Linked DNA regions of Homo sapiens: region 2 is linked to region 1. The links come from fine-mapping of genetic effects on gene expression. Tissue or cell type: prostate. Region 1 holds a variant in brackets; the other region holds the start of a gene. All regions are shown on one strand. Distances are from middle to middle.

Region 1 (8,180 bases):
TTCCAGGAATTTTTTAAGTGTCTAACAAAGTATAATTTTGCCTGTAATCAATATCTAATAAGTGATTATTTTATGAATAAAATTATATTGGAGCAAAGGAGTGAGTTAACAAGGTTTTCTTTTGTTGTTGTTGGTATTTGTTTTTGGCTAAAATCCTCAAGTCAGCATAAAACCCAGTTACAGGCCGGGCGCGGTGGCTCACGCCTGTAATCCCAACACTCTGGGAGGCCGAGGCAGGCGGATCACGAAGTCAGGAGCTCGAGACCATCCTGGCTAACACGGTGAAACCCTGTCTCTACTAAAAACACAAAAAATTAGCCAGGTGTGGTGGCGGGTGCCTGTAGTCCCAGCTACATGGGAGGCTGAGGCAGGAGAATGGTGTGAACCCAGGAGGCAGAGCTTGCAGTGAGCTGAGATCGCACCACTGCACTCCAGCCTGGGCAACAGAGCAAGACTCCGTCTCAAAAAACAAACAAACAAACAAAAACACAGTTACCCTGTACCCCCTAGAGGGAGATGGTGGTGAGATGCTGTGGATGACAGCTGGACTCTGAGTCAGGCAGATGTGTGTGACCTTGGACGAGTTCCTGAAGGTCTCAGAGCTACTGTCTCCTCACCATAAATGGAGAACCTTCTCTCCACTTGGGCCATTTTGGGAGGTCATGCAAGCAAAGCACTGCGCACAGTATCTGTTATTTTTGACTTTTATTCCCAGCATCCTGCCTACTCTGGACAGTTCAAGCCAAGGGGCTACTTCCTGCTGAAGGTCACAGAAAGCAGTCGGTTTGGACCCCCTGAGTTGGGATGTAGTTGCCACCAGCTGGGACAGAAGGAGGAAGGCAGAGGTGGGGATGGCGTGGCTCCCCCTCCCATCACATCTTTGAGGACCTTGCAGACCTACTGCACGCTCAGCACTTTGATGTACCACATCTCCCCAATCTAGACTTTTCAACCTTGACACTACTGCCATTTGGGGTCGGGTCATTCTTTGTGGTGGGGTCGGGGTGGGAGCTGTCCTGTGCACTGCAGGATGCTGAGCAGCATCCCTGGCCTCTACTCACTTCCTGGAGCATCTTCTCTCCTTCTTGTGATAACCAATAATGCCTCCTTTCATTACCAGACATGCTCTGGAGGGCACAATCCACCCAGCTGAGAACCACCACCTTAAACTGTTACCTGCAAAAATGTCCTGATCACCACTCCCATTGTATAGCTAAGGAGAACCAATGTTTAAAAGAAATCCCACAGCCAGAGGGTGGCAGGAGGAGGACTCAACCCCTTGTCAGTCTGAATGGAAATCCTGCCTTGTTTCCATGGCCTCCCATTCTGCATGGACACCCTCTCCCAGGACCCCAGCTCTGCCCTCTCGCTGGCTGGCCCACAGCTCAGCACAGGACAGACTGACTCAGCCAGCCCCAGTCAGGGCCTGCATGCATGGGAGACTCTATTCATTCACACATGGACGCACCGACTTCTCCAATGCAACTTGCACCAAAGCTTTATTTGCTATTTTCATAGTCTGAATGCAACATCTTTGTACATGCAAAGGTCATCTTGTTTTATTGCAGTCGACCAGATTTCCAACTGCTCTTCTGTGCATATGAAACTTCTTTACAGTTACAAAATATAAAAGCACTTGTAGACGTCCAATACTCTGTGAGGTCTGGTAAGCCCCATTTGTTTTTACATTAAAAATATAAGTTTTTCTAGATGACTTCTCAGTCACACGGTTAGAGATTCTTTCTGGGACTGGATAAAGTGCCTCTCGTCTGCCTTCCGTTCAGAACTCCTAGAGCTTGTGAATTCCTAAGGCAATTGCAAGAACACCGCAGGCAGGAAGCTTAACTTTCCTACACAAAGAACTCGAGCTCCTTTTCTATCGTGACTCAAAGATCTGAGGAAGGACCCAGAAGAAAGGTTAGGAAAATATATACTATACTTGTGTGTGTGTGTGTCTCTGTGTGTGTGTGTATATATATATATTTCCACGCCCTGCCCCATCTTACAAAGCATTTGGAGGATCACGATCATCTGGGAAGTGCATGACTTTAGGATATTGGTATGATTTAGGAAACAGCACAGTACAAAATTATCTTCCATAACACAATATATTACTTTTGTGACCCCCCCTATTTACAGGATCTATAAGGCTATGTGGAATGAGATTATTAAAAAGCTCAAATTCAGCTGGGCATGGTGGCTCAGGCCTGTAATCCCAGCACTTTGGGAGGCTGAGGCAGTAGAATCACTTGAGACCAAGTTTAAGACCAGCTTGGGCAATATAGTGAGATCCTGTTTCTACAAAACAGATTTAAAAGATCAGCTGGGCGTGGTGATGTGCGCCTGTCATCTAGGCTACTCTGGAGGTGGAGATGAGAGGATTGCTTGAGCCCAGGAGTTGGAGGCTGGAGTGAGCTATGATTGTGCCACTGCATTCCAGCCTGGCCAACAGAGCAAGACCGTGTCTCAAGAAAAGAAAAAAAAAAAAGTTCAAATTCTTTAGAAAACAGCATAATTTGTAGCCCGTGTGATGCCAATAGGAATTGTCAAGGAAGTGCCCGTCCAAGTCATGGAAGATGATGTTATGGCACAGGTGTGAGAGCAACCACTGAAGGAGATTCTGGGAAGGCCAAAGGGGAGGGCGGGCTGAGGGGTGTCCATTTTAAGGGTTAACTTGCCGGAAACCTCAGGCCGACTTTCCAGAGCAGAGGGCCTAGCTTTCTGCCCTTCCCCCTGCAGGAGCCAATTTAGTCAAAAGAAAGCAAACTCTGGATTGGGGGGTGCAAAAGGAGACGCAGGCTGGCAAAGACCTGGCACACTCATGCCTACCAGCTTTTTACGTGGCTCTAAACTTCCTGAGCCCACCCAGAATTCCAACTGGGTGAGTCCTAGCAGCCTCTTAGCACACAGCAAGAGTCCCCCACTCGCTAATGGGACCGAGCCCAAAGCAGATCCCCTTTAGATGTGGAGTGGGTCCTATCCCTCCAGCCCCTCGGAATCATGATGCCATGGAACTTCGGCTTTTGTGTTTTAACACACGGTGAGGGGGAAGGCACATTCAGAGACCACAGAATGTCTCCCCATCACTTACTCTGGTTTAAATATCTACACTGGGGAGGAGGGATTTTTACAGTTTGCAATTACGACTAGTTCCAGGAGCCATCTGGGGGCATTATAAAGAAAAATTTTAAAGCATAGATCAACAAAGCAGCTATCAGCACCAGGTTGGAGCAGCTAAGGTCTCTTTTAGGAAAATCATGCTAAGGGTCTTTCTAAATCCTTTGCCCAGCCTGTAAAGTTTAAAACCACAGGCTCATGCCTATTTCTCTTTTGGCTTCTTGGTGATACCCTTAGTTGGCCTCCCTTCCAGGGAGGCACAAAGGCAAACACAATTGTCTGAAACCACATGATTTGGCGCGTCCCCCTGGAAAACACCGCCATCTGATTGTCCTTTCCCTGAATCCTGAGGCTATCAGGTCAGGTTCACTCAAAATCCCAACATCCTAAAGACCACGAGGTTTCTCTTTCACCAGAGTTTCTCCGGTGGCATGGAGTAATCCTCCACAACACTGATTTCTGAGGCCTTGTCATGGATTTTCAAAGGCCAAAAGCCTCTGTTTGATTAGGCAAAGGACCATGAAGAAGGGTATCTACTGAAGAGGAAAAAGATACAGGCTTCTCAAAAGATCAGCTGTTAAAATGCTGATGTGCAAAGGGGTGGTGGAGGTGAGGAGGAAGAGAAATGAGGGGGAGAGAGATTGTACATATAGAGGATTTTCCATTCTGCATGAAACTCTCATTGAGGACAGCCAAAGCCCCAGGGGAGGAGGGTTAGATTGAGGAGCGGATGACTCCATTACACACAGATGATTAAGGCATATTAAGTGAGTTTAAAAAGAAGACAGATTTCCAAAGGGGTCTCCAGGCAAAGTCTAGAAACTAGCATACAACGCCTCCTTGCTTAGCCTCAAAGAGAGCTCACTCCATTTAGAATGGGGATAAGTAAATCACCCATTTGCCCAGCTATCTGCAAAGGCTCCCAATCATCAGTTACTTCTAACTTCATTGCACTGATCATAAGCAGGTCTCAGAGGTCATGGCAGAGCCCACGTGAAAGAGGGTCGCTCTTGACCCACTGTGATTGTCTTCCCTGTGGTGCTGGAGGAGACAAGGTTATAGAAAAATAAAAGGAGGTGAGGAAGATCTTCAGGGCTTGCCCTAGTCACTTTCAAGGAGGGTGAACTTTGTATATCCTAATTAACATAGAATTAATTGATTATTTTTCCAATTAAGGTATGAGAGATTAGGGAAAAAAAATCTCCAGGTCAATCTCATTTTCAAGTGTGTTTCATTCCTGTCTGATATCCTTGAGCTGAGACATGACTAATTAAGAATTGAGAGTTTTGCATGAGGACCATCAATATATGTAAGAGCAGGTCCTTTCCTACTGCTTGAGATGGTACCAAGGGGTCCTTTCCACCTGAAGGAAAGAGAGACAGCAGCCCAGATAAGAAGTCAGGATCAAAAGACTAGGAATGTGTTTCAGGCCAGGTGCAGTGGCTCATGTCTGTAATCCGAGCACTTTGGGAGGCTGAGGAGGGACAATTGCTTGAGCCCAGAAGTTCGAGACCAGCCTGGGCAACATGGTAAGACCCTTGTCTCTACAAAAATATTTAAAAATTAGCTGGTCATGGTAGCATACACCTGTAGTCCCAGCTACTTGGGAGGCTGAGGTGGGAGAATCACTTGAGCCCAGGTGTTAGTGAGCTATGATCGTGCCACTCCACTCCAGCTTGAGCAACAGAGTAAGACCTTGTCTCAGAAAAACAAAACAAAACAAAACACTAGCAGGGTATTTTTAAAGGGGATCCTATTGACGTTGAAAGCCATAAGATCAAAATTATTATAAAACATAAACTGGATCTTTAAAAAAGAATTCGACTGAAGCAGTTGCAGGCATGAATCCCCAAATGGCCACGGAGAACTGATGACTAATTCAGGGAATGAAGAGAAAACAAACTATCATCAGCAGGGCCAAACTCCCAAACCCAGATGCATGAGGCTCCCAGGTGTAAAAGGCTGGGTGGGTGACATG[A/G]TCTGGCAATTGCTCATCAGTAACCAAAGCTCATCGAACAGGACACAAGGTGGGCTCCGGCCTCACAGCCCTGCAGTTGCTGTCCCTGGTGCTGAACAGCAACTGCCTCACCAGGGCCCAGGTGTTTATCCTAACCTAAAGAAACAGAGGATTTCTATCCATGCCCATCCACCCACTAAGACAGAGAAGAGGGGTAAAGGAAGATGAGGGAGGAAGCTGAGACAGAGAGACAAATGAACTCCTGAGAGGTAGCCAGGGAGAAGGAAAGCATGTTTTGACAGCATTTGCAAATAATGGATTCATCAAGAAAGATGAAGGAAAATGAGGTGAGCAAAAGCAAAAAGTACCCTTCATTCATGCATCTGTTCTGAGGCCAGTTTGGAACAACTCCTCCATGCCAGCAGCCCACGTCATGTTCAAAGAAGACTCTGGAGAAAAAGATTACTAGGGCAGGTCTGATGATTCATAAGCAAAGGCACCACCACTTGGGCTGCAGTTTATGAACCCTTAAGGCCAAGGGGCAAAGGTCACCCTACCGAAACCAGAGCTCAAATGAAAAGAAGCCATGGAAATAAATACAAGAGTGACAATTATAACTTCTAAACAGCTTGGATAGGGATAAGATAACCTGAGGTGACTGGATACTTCAGAACAAATTATTCGCACATCTTTCCTCCTGTCCTTTAACGTAAACACATATATACCTATCAAGTTTCAAAGAAAATTAGCTGAATTATTGCTTTATCGCCTTCTAAAGCAAACAAAAATGACATACAATAACATAGGCCAACGATGCACACAGCCCCACTAGAAAGAGAAATACACATAATCAGGGAGAGTATGTTTAAAAATTGGAACTGCTGATTCCTCAAGGGGAAGAAGGAACTCACCAAAAAAAAAGAATAGAAAACCTCAACCCAGCGGTAATACCCTGCACCGAGACTACAGCAGAAAATGAACAGTTTGATCTTCCTTGGAAATGTCCTTCCAAAAAAAGACCTGCCCCGGGGTCGGGTGAGGAGGTGCTTTCACAAATGCAGGTGTTTTTCAGAACCTGGGGAGACAATTCCAGCCTCACACTGATGTTCTTGGAGCTGATGAAGGTGTCTAAAATAGGTAGAAATGCAAATTTTTACATAAAAAGCAAAACCACCCACATGGACGTTTCTGGGCAGCCTGGCTCCTTTCCCAGCCTGAAGTGCTGTCTGGGGAGATGAGCGAGTGCTCCTGGAGGTTGGGTCTTCCCGTCTGGATCCAGGGAGAGCCTGGCGAGGACAGGGGCACTGGATAGCGTTCTCAATCCAATGGGAAGGGCCCAGGCACGTAAGCGTTGTGCAGGAAGAAACGGCAGCAGCTCGGCCTCGTCTGCGGGTTCTGATGGTTAAGGCTTCTGTTACGTAGATGTGGCAGTGTTCCCTGCCTGGAGAGGAAGGGACAGTACTGGTGTCAGCAGTGGGAACATTTGGCTCCATTGCTCTCTACCCTCAGTCCTTAAAATCTCACCTGATATTCTCCAATGAAGTCACCCCTAGAAGCCTAAGGTCACAAAAGAGATTTTTTGTGTTGGGTGGAAAGGGGAGGTGAGGAGGGTGGCAGGCATGGAATACAGTGAAACCAACATGAAATTTAGGGTCAGGTCAGGGTTCCAGTCTCAATTCTGAGCCTCAGTTTCCTCAAAGGGGTTGCTGGAGGCTTAAATGAGATATTACATGTACTGCACCAAACACAAAATAAACACAGGTCCCGATCCCTTATCCAAATCCCTTGAGCATAGTTTTATTTGGGAATTTATAATTTTTAGTATTTATTATACATACACACATGCATCATACATAATCATGTAATATATACACATATGTATATATATACATATGTAACACCACCATAATCAAGCAGATAATATTCCTGCAGTGTATTATGAACATTCATATAAAGTGGGGAAAATAGAGTCAAAGTAGAATTATATTCACTCAGGTCAGGTTTTACCACTGACTTAGGAAAAAGCTTTGTTTTGCAGGGCTTTCTGGAATTTGGCTTTGTGGATAAGGGATGGTGAGTCTCTTGTGCTCATCACATCAACGCTGACTTTGATGGTGCACGTACCATGAGCTCCTATACTGAGGAGAAACAGGCAGCACTCAGTCAAGCACCACAGGTGCATTCTCAGTGAGCCCTGAGGACAACTCGGTGGTGTGGACACTGCTAACCCATTTTACAGATGAGGAAACTTAAGTTCATGATGTTCAGTCATTTGCAACTTACACCAGGGCCTATCTAATCGTAATTTTTAATGTATATTTTTTCAAATTCATTTTTAACTACATAGGTTGTATATGAAACACTCCCCCTATAAAAACTGTAACCATTTCTGGCCGGGCACAGTGGCTCACGCCTATAATCCCAGCACTTTGGGAGCCAGAGGTGAATGGATCACCTGAGGTCAGGAGTTCGAGACCAGCCTGTCCAACATGGTGAAACTCCATCTCTACAAAAAATATAAAAATCAGCTGGGCATGGTGGCAGGCACCTGTAATTCCAGCTACTTAGGAGGCTGAGGCAGGAGAATCGTTTGAACCCGGGAGGCAGAGGCCGCAATGAGCCAAGATCCGAGATTGCATCATTGCACTCCAGCCTTGGTGACAAGGGCGAAACTCTGTCTCAAAAAAAAAAAAAAAAAAAAGTAACCATTTCTAATTAAGCTAACCTCTGATGTCCCCGCCCTTTTGTTTTATCAGAGGGGACTGTGATGCAGCTAGAAGGGTCAGCCAAGTGCATGAGACCAGAGCCCCAGTCACCTGCCTCCTGGCCTGGTACCTTTCACCCACTCCAGGCAGCCCAGCTTTGTTTTCTCCCTAAATGGAAACAGACATAACCATCCTCTTTACAGGAACTCAGAACACCCCCCACCCCTCATTCTTCCCCTTACACAGCCTCTTTCCTTGGGTACAACAGCCCCAGTCTCTGAAGCGTGGCCCCCCTGAGTTCCCCATTCCTGTGACTGCAGGGCTCTTCCCAGGTTCCCCAACAGAGCCCCTTCATACCTGGTCAAACTTGGTTCTCATAAAGACTTTGCCTCTTCTTGGAT
Region 2 (8,180 bases), 25 kb before region 1:
AGTGCAGTGGCGCGATCTCGGCTCACTGCAAGCTCCGCCTCCTGGGTTCACGCCATTCTCCTGCCTCAGCCTCCTGAGTAGCTGGGACTACAGGCGCCTGCCACCACGCCCAGCTAATTTTTTTTGTATTTTTTTAGTAGAGATGGGGTTTCACCAAGTTAGCCAGGATGGTCTCGATCTCCTGACCTCGTGATCTGCCTGCCTCGGCCTCCCAAAGTGTTGAGATTACAGGCGTGAGCCACCGCGCCCGGCCTCCAGTGAGAATTTTGGAGGCAGAGGTTTTCCAGCCACACTTCCCCAGCAAACTGCCCCTGGATGAAAAGATGGGCTCAGGTCAGCACACTCTCAGTCGGGGCAGCTACAGAATCGACACGGTCAGCACAGGCTGGGTAAACATAGCCCTCTCTCCCAGGCCTGGGATTAGCCACACAAAGAAAGGGAAAGGCACAGGGCTTAGAGGCAAATTCCACGGGCTCAATCCAGCCTTTACAGTCAGTGACCCAGCCCTTTACGGTCACTGACTCGGCCAGAGATAGGGTCAGGAGACAAGGGCTCCAATGTGTCCTCTGTTACATCCAGTTGCACAAACCTAAAAAGCAATTCAATACTCTGGGCCTCAGGTCCCTCATCTGTCAAATGGGGACTCAAGAATGTGGAAGTTCGGGGCTAGAGTTTATTATTACCCTGGCCTGGGAGACCAGGGCTTGTGGGTGGTTAGCACATAGTATTTGCGCTGCTTGTGGGAGACATAATTATGTTAATTAAAAGACATGCTACAGATCCCACGTGAATAAGTGGAAGAGCTGAAATTGAAGCCCAGACTTGTCTGATGCAGATGAAATTGAAGCAGCACTTTGCAGACTCTAACCTGTGCACACAACACTGGGATCTTGATCAAATGCAGTTTCTGAGGTAGCAGGCCTGGGGTGCCCACCTGAATAGGGGTAGGCAGGTGAGGAAGAGCAGTTTCTCCATGCATTTGAAAGCCCAGAAGCTCAGAGGACCCAGGAGCTCAATAGCGTTGTTATTAATCAATAGAGTAGAGGGCAAAATTTTACAAATTATCCAATCCTTTAAGCCTGCACTGTCCCACACAGCAGCCATTAGTAACATATGGCTACTGAGCACATGTAATTAGTCCATATTATTACTTATACTGTGCTATAAGCGTAACATACACATCATATTTTGAAAATTCAGAATGGAAAAAATAATGTAAAATATCTGCCTAATAATTCTTATATTGATTATACATTAACATGCTCATCTTTTGGATATATTGGGTTTCATAAAATGTAATATGAAAATTAATTTCACCTATTTCTTTTTACTTTTTATGATGTGGCTACTAGAACATTTTGCATTACCTATGTGGCTCACATTATAGGTCTAGTGGACAGAGCTTCTTGCTTTTTTCCAAACTCACCCAGTTCATTCCCACCTCGGAGTCTTTGCGCCTGCTGTTCCTTTTGTCTGGATGCTCTCATCAACCCTGACCCCCATTTTTCATTTTTCTGTGGAGATGGGATCTCACTATGTTGCCCAGGCTGGGCTCAAACTTTTGGGTTCAAACAGTCCTCCCACCTCGGCCTGGCAAAGGCACCCCCAATTTTCATATAGCCGCTTCCTCACTTGACCCAGGTGTCTGCTCAAAGTCAGCTCCTCAGAGAGACCCTCCTGGACCACCTGAGCTAACACAACCACTGTGACTCTCAGGAGCCCCTTCCCCTAGTTTACAATTGTTTGTAGCACTTCTCACTACTGGAAATCATATATTCATTTATTTATTGTCTGTCCTTCTTCTGGAAAGTAAGCCCTAAAAGGGACAGATTGGGGTGAGCAGGTGAGGGGCTGTATCTGCTCAGGCTTCCCTGGCCCAGGAGGCACTGAGTCAGACAAAGGGGCCATTCCTGAAGGAACCTGTGCCCGGGGCTACCAAAGCAGGGAGGCACAGGAGGGCAGTCAGGTGGCCGTGCCTAGATAGAGGTTTGAGGGCAGACTGGGTGTGACAAGCCTCTGACGTTGGGATAAGATCCTGCCGCCCTTGGGTGGACAGGTGGATGAGAAATCAAAGGCGGCATTATTTGCTGGTGTTAGGTGGATGCGCACCCCAGGCCGGGTGTTAGGCTGAGCCTGGTTTCTTTGGCTCTCACAACTTCCCTGTGCAATAAATCTGACTCCTCCTTTTATAGAGATGGAACTGAGGCTCAGAGGGATCAAATAATTGGCCCGGATCACACAGCAGGTGCAGAGCCAGGACTCACACCCACCTTCCATCTACTAATCCCATCTCTGACTGAGAATGAGGGTCTGCTCCAGTTTCAGGGAGCCCTGTAGACAATAGGGTGTGGCAAAACAGGTAAGGGAGAGAGAAACTGAAGTCTCCAAAGCCAGAGGCTGGTACTGGGAATCCCAGCATGCCAGCTATGGGCTGGGGAGGGACTTTCAGTATCAGCTCCAACTGTGTGGGTAGAGGAGACTGAGTCCCAGAGAGGGGCAGGGGTCGAGAGGGGGTACCCATGAAGAAAGATGCCAAGCCCATTTTACAGAAGGGCAACTAAGTCTGGGGGAGGAGCATTGCATGCCCCCTCCTCTGAGAGGTACCCACCTTGGGGTTGAGGGACTGTGGCTTGCCCGCCTGGGTCTGGTGATCTGAGGCCATGGTGGACTGTCCTGTGCAGGAATGACCTGGAAGACATGGGAAGCAGCAGTGAGGACCTGGAGGGGCCACTGGCTTTTTCACTCTGTGGGGCCTTGAGACCACTCCCCTCTGGCCCCAAACATTCTCTTTTTCTCCTGGTTTCAGACTGTCCCAGAGCTGTGGGGTCCGTAAGCAGCTACTTCAACTTCTGTCCTTAGCTTCATTTATTTCTATCCAGGCCAGCTGCAGGAGGAGGGAAAAACGAGGTCTACTCAAAGAAAGAGAGCAGTAATAAACTAGAGCTTAAATGAGGTCCAAAGTGGGTTCCCAACACTCAACCCCAGACAATGGATACCACACAGAATATAGAATGGTCAATCCCAGAACTTCTGCCTTTATGCAGTAATTTCTTAAATAAAATTGTGTGGAACAAACAAAACCTATGCATTGGCTGTATTTGGTGGTGTGGTGGTGCCCAGTTTAGGAACTCACAAAGTTCCCTGTTCCCCTGCTCCTTCTCCCACCCTCTCCCTGGGACTCCTCTCCCCATCCTGGTACCTAGATTTCTCTTCTCTGCCACTGGTTTTACTCCCCCATTAGTGAAATCATCTGATACAGAACCCACATTACAAGAAAGAGAAGAAATGGGTGCGACGGTAGAAATCCAGGCACTGTGGCAGGCAGCAGGGTAGACCTGCCTTAGCTAGTGAGAACATCAGAAAAGCCTGGAAAATTGTCAGCCTCTTCCCCCTTCCTGCAGAAGGGGTGGTCAAACCAGGCTGTGTTTCCCCAGGGGTAAGAGAGGAAGCCTGGCCTCCCTCTTCAGAGATAACGCCAGCTTCCAGAAGCCCCTTCCACATGAAAGGCCAATACTGGATGTTTCCCAGGAGGAAGAAATGCAGTTAAGCACCTTGGCAGCCAAATCTACTGCTCTCCCGCAAGAAACCAGCCCTCTGGGCTTGTCAGAGTGCCTGAGGTCCTGCCATATCACTTCCCAGTCCTGAGTGTTCACAGACTGAAGAAGCTCAGTTGGTCCAGTTCAGGAGCAGTCTCTGCTGCCTGCCAGAATTGAGACTCTGGGCAGGTCTCATCCTCTCCCTATGCCTCAACTTCCTGTTCTATAAAATGGGGACAGTAATGATGTCTAATAATACCTGTGAACAGGTTGTGAGGATTCAATTATGTAATGTATAAAACCGGAAGCACTTGGCCGTGGTCCCAGAACACACTCAGCATGCAGCAAATGGCAGCAATTGTGGCATTATTAGAGTCATTTCTACCATGCTTTAGTGGCATTGAAATCACCTGTTGCTGGGACCTGTCACATACCTGTGGCTGCATCCTATCCCCTAGCACTCCCAGAGGCTAGGCACAGAGTGGGTGCCCCCTAATTGCAGATGTGGAGGAAAACTGACTCACCCACCTAGAAACAATGCTGAACTGTCACTGGTTTGATTCTTGCAAAACCCTCAGTTACATTCTCCTCCTCAGCGACTGGCGAAACAAGGATGCTGATAGTCTGTTTAATATTAATAATAAAGAACATTGCCCCAATGCCCACTGTGTGCCAGGCACTGTGCTGGATGATCCCCTAACTTCTCTTGAATCCTTACAATAAAGAAGGCTTTTTAACCCCCTTCCCAGTTACCAGAAAAGAAAACTGAGGCTAACAGCATTGAAGTCTCTGCCCAAAGTCACTTGTCAGAATCTGGGTGCTCCCATGCTTGCGGACAGGGGTGAGGATGAGAGAAAGAAGGGAAGACAAGCAAGAGAGGCAATCTTACCAGTGACACCAGCCCCTGCGAGTGCCGTGAAGCTCGGCCAGCGGGAGGTGGCATTTATACCTTCCCCAGAAGTGCCGGTGCCAAGATGAGTGACCGCTGTGCTCCTGCGAAAAGCAGGGTGAGAATGCTGGATTAAGCTCTCACCAAAGCTCGGGTCAGCAAATGCCCACAGACATTGTGTCTCTGCACAATAATGTCATTAGCTTTCAGATTCGGCCGCGCCAGGGCGGTCAGGCGGCTGGGCAAGGAGATGCCCGCTTTGCATGCATCAGCCGTCCGGCTGCCAGGGCCAGGGGTACGCTGGGTTCACTGGTACGGTCAGTCAGGCCGTGAGGCATGGCAGACAGAGGAACATCTCAGTGGGCCTGGGGAAGAACAAGTAAAGAAGGGTGGTTTGGCAGAGTCTGGGCTTCATTCATCTACCCATTTATTCATTCAACAAATATTTGTTGGGCATCCACTTGGTGACAATCTCTGTTCCAGGGGAGTGTCAGGAAGAGGACCTACGCCAGCCCAGGCCATTCAGAAAAGCTCCTGGGAGGTAGCGCATCCCTCAGGGATGGAGAAGAGGAAGCCTGGGAACAGGGTGGGGGGACAGTTCCAAGCAGAAAGGGTCCATATACAAGGAACCAGCATGGTGTATTTCAAGAAGACCTGAAAACAGGTTAACAAAGCTAAAGCATGACATGTGACAAATAGGGCCTGTGCCAGGTGGCCAAGGTGGGCAGGGCCTGATGTTGCAGGGCCAGGGAGGCCAATTATGGAGAGTGCATTTTATTCTCAAGGCCCCTGGCTGTTTCTCTTTCTTTTCTTTCTTTCTTTCTTTCTCTTTCTTTCTTTCTTTCTTTCTTTCTTTCTTTCTTTCTTTCTTTCTTTCTTTCTTTCTTCTCTCTCTCTCTCTCTCTCTCTCTCTCTCTCTCTCTCTCTCTCCCCTCTCTCTCTCTCTCTCTCTCTCTCTCCCCCTCTCTCTCTCTCTTTCTTTCTTTCTCTTTCTTTCTTTTGAGATGGAATCTCACTCTGTCACCCAGGCTGGAGTGCAGTGGTGTGATCTCGGCTCACTGCAACCTCTGCCTCCCAGGTTCAAGCGATTCTCCTGCCTCAGCCTCACCAGTAGCTGGGACTACAGGTGTGCGCCACCAGGTCCAGCTAAATTCTTTTTTTTGCTGTATCTTGTTAGAGACAGGGTTTTGACATGTTGCCCAGGGTGGTCTCAAACTCCTGAGCTCAGGCAATCCATCCACCTTGGCCTCCTAAAGTGCTGGGATTCCAGGCATGAGCCACTGCACCCGGCCTGTTTCTTAACCACTGTCCTAGAGTGAGTTGCTCTTAGATCCCTACCACTGGCCCCATCGCTGCCACATGGGTGCCCAGCCTTTACTCACATTTCTTTTCTATTTTTTTTTTTTTTGAGATGGAGTCTCGCTCTGTCGCCCAGGCTGGAGTGCAGTGGCACGATCTCAGCTCACTGCAAGCTCTGCCTCCCGTGTTCACACCATTCTCCTCCTTCAGCCTCCCTAGTAGCTGGGACTACAGGCGCCCGCCAACACGCCCGGCTAATTTTTTGTATTTTTAGTAGAGACGGTGTTTCACTGTGTTAGCCAGGATGGTCTCGATCTCCTGACCTCATTATCCGCCCGTCTCGGCCTCCCAAAGTGCTGGGATTACAGGCGTGAGCCACCGCGCCCGGCCTTTACTCATGTTTCTTTAGTGCACACACCTTCCTTGCAGCCCAGGCTGTGTCTTGATCCAATCTGAGGCTTGGAGACTGGGTCAAGTATACCTGCTTTCCCCTGTCTCTCATTTTCTTAATGCACATATGCATGCACACGCATGCACACACACTACACACACATGCCCCAGCCCCCTAGCTGGGCTTTTCCTTTTGCAGCACTCATCACTACCCAACATTCTGTTACTCATTTATTTTCTGTCTTTCCAATGAGAAGATAAGCACCACAAAAGCAAAGAAGTTGTCCCCCTGGTTTACCATGGTATCTCCAGAGCCCAGTGCCTGACGCATAGTAGGTACTTGTTTTAAAATCCCAGGGCTGGCCGGGCACAGCGGCTCACGCCTGTAATCCCAGCACTTTGGGAAGCCAAGCCAGGCGGATCACCTGAGGTTGGGAGCTCGAGACCTGCCTGAGCAACATGGAGAAACCCCGTCTCTACTAAAAATACAAAATTAGCCGGGCATGGTGGCACATGCCTGTAATCCCAGCTACTCGGGAGGCTGAGGCAGGAGAATCACTTGAACCCACGAGGCAGAGGATGCAGTGAGCCAAGATCATGGCATTGCACTCCAACCTAGGCAACAAGAGCAAAACTCTGTCTCAAAGAAAATAAATAAATAAATAACATAAAATAAATCCCAGGGCTGCTGTAATAAAGTGTCACAAACTAAGTGGCTTAAAAACAACAGAAATTGGGAATGTAAAATGGTGTTGCCACTACGGAAAACAGTGTGGCTGTCTCAAAAAAAAAAAAAAAATCCAACATAGAATTACCATATGAGCCAGCCATTCCACTTCTGTGCACGTGCCCCAAAGAATTGAAAGCAGGGAATTGAAGAGATATTTACACACCCATGTTCATAGCAGCATTATTCACAATAGCCGAAAGATGGAAACCACCCAAATGTCCATCAACGGATGAATGGATAAACACTATGTGGTCTATCCATACAATGGAATATTATTCAGCCTTAAAAAGAAAGGAAATTCTGACTCCAACATGATGAGGTTTGAAAATGTTATGCAAAGTGAAATAAACCAGACACAAAAGGACAAATATTGTATGATTCCACTTACATAAGTTACCTAGGGTAGGCAAATTCATGGAGACTGGAAGTAGAATAGAGGTTACTGGGGGCTGGGAGGAGCGGGGAATGGGGAGTTATTGTTTAATGGGTACAGAGTTTCTGTTTGGGATGATGGAAAAGCTGGGGATGGATAGTGGTGATGGTCCCATAACAATGCCACTGAACTGTACTCTTAAAAATGGTTAAAATGGTTAATTTTATGCTATGCAGTATTTTACCACAAAAATGTCCCCCAAAAAACCCCAGAAGTTTATTGTTGTGTAATTCTGGAGGCTGGAAGCCTGACATCAAGCTGTCAGCAGGGCCATGCCTGCTCCAGGGGTTCTAGGTGAGGGTCCTTCCTTGTCTCTCCCAGCCCTTTGTGTTTGCCGGTAATTGTTCATGTTCCTTGGATGGGAGGTGCATCACTTTAATCACGTGACTGTCTTCTCCCTGTATCTTCACATCATCTTCCCTTAGTGCATGGCTGATTCTATGTCTAAATTTCTGTGCCTATAAGGATACCAGTCATGTTGGCTTAGGTGACTTCACTAGGCAACTTCACCCTGATGACTTTGTTTCAAATTGGTTCCTTCTGTAAAGACCCTATTTCCAAATAGAAGGTCACATTCTGAGGTACTGGGGGTTAGGACTTTGGAATATCTTTTATGGACACAGGTCAGCCCATAATAGACCTCAGTTAATATTTGTTGAGTAAATGAATGGATTCAAGACCTGGCTGTGTCCTTATAAATAAGAAAGAATTCCTAACATTTCGATTGTATCAGAGCTTGACATGAGTCAGGCACTGTCCATACTCATCTTTTTTTAATCCTCCCAACAAACTCAAGATGTAAGTATTGTATTTATTGATCATTCCATTTTATAAAAGAGAAAATTGAGGCTCAGAGAGACTAAGCCACTTGCCCAAATTTGCACAGCTAGTGAGTAGTAGGAC

Alleles and levels. Alleles are on the strand shown, and positions count from the first base shown. SD is a standard deviation of normalised expression in the study named.
With allele A in place of G in region 1, the expression in prostate of the gene that starts at base 4,453 in region 2 is higher (moderate effect, 0.45 SD a copy in GTEx).

What was found. PIP is the estimated chance that this variant, and not a neighbour inherited with it, causes the effect.
Region 2: it holds the start of CRYBB2, and the variant in region 1 is fine-mapped to the expression of CRYBB2 in prostate (GTEx, PIP 0.91).

Annotation. Positions count from the first base shown.
Region 1 is chr22:25,190,741-25,198,920 of GRCh38, reverse strand. It overlaps KIAA1671, which reads right to left. Exons shown (of 13, transcript NM_001145206.2): 12 at 8,137-8,180; 13 at 1,473-6,515. The coding sequence ends at 8,141. Among named protein-coding and RNA genes, the nearest start is that of CRYBB3, 5.0 kb to the left of the region's middle. The variant A/G (reference allele first, on the strand shown) is at 5,096.
Region 2 is chr22:25,215,912-25,224,091 of GRCh38, reverse strand. CRYBB2 (crystallin beta B2) reads right to left here and starts at 4,453. Exons shown (of 6, transcript NM_000496.3): 1 at 4,426-4,453; 2 at 2,609-2,688. The coding sequence starts at 2,662.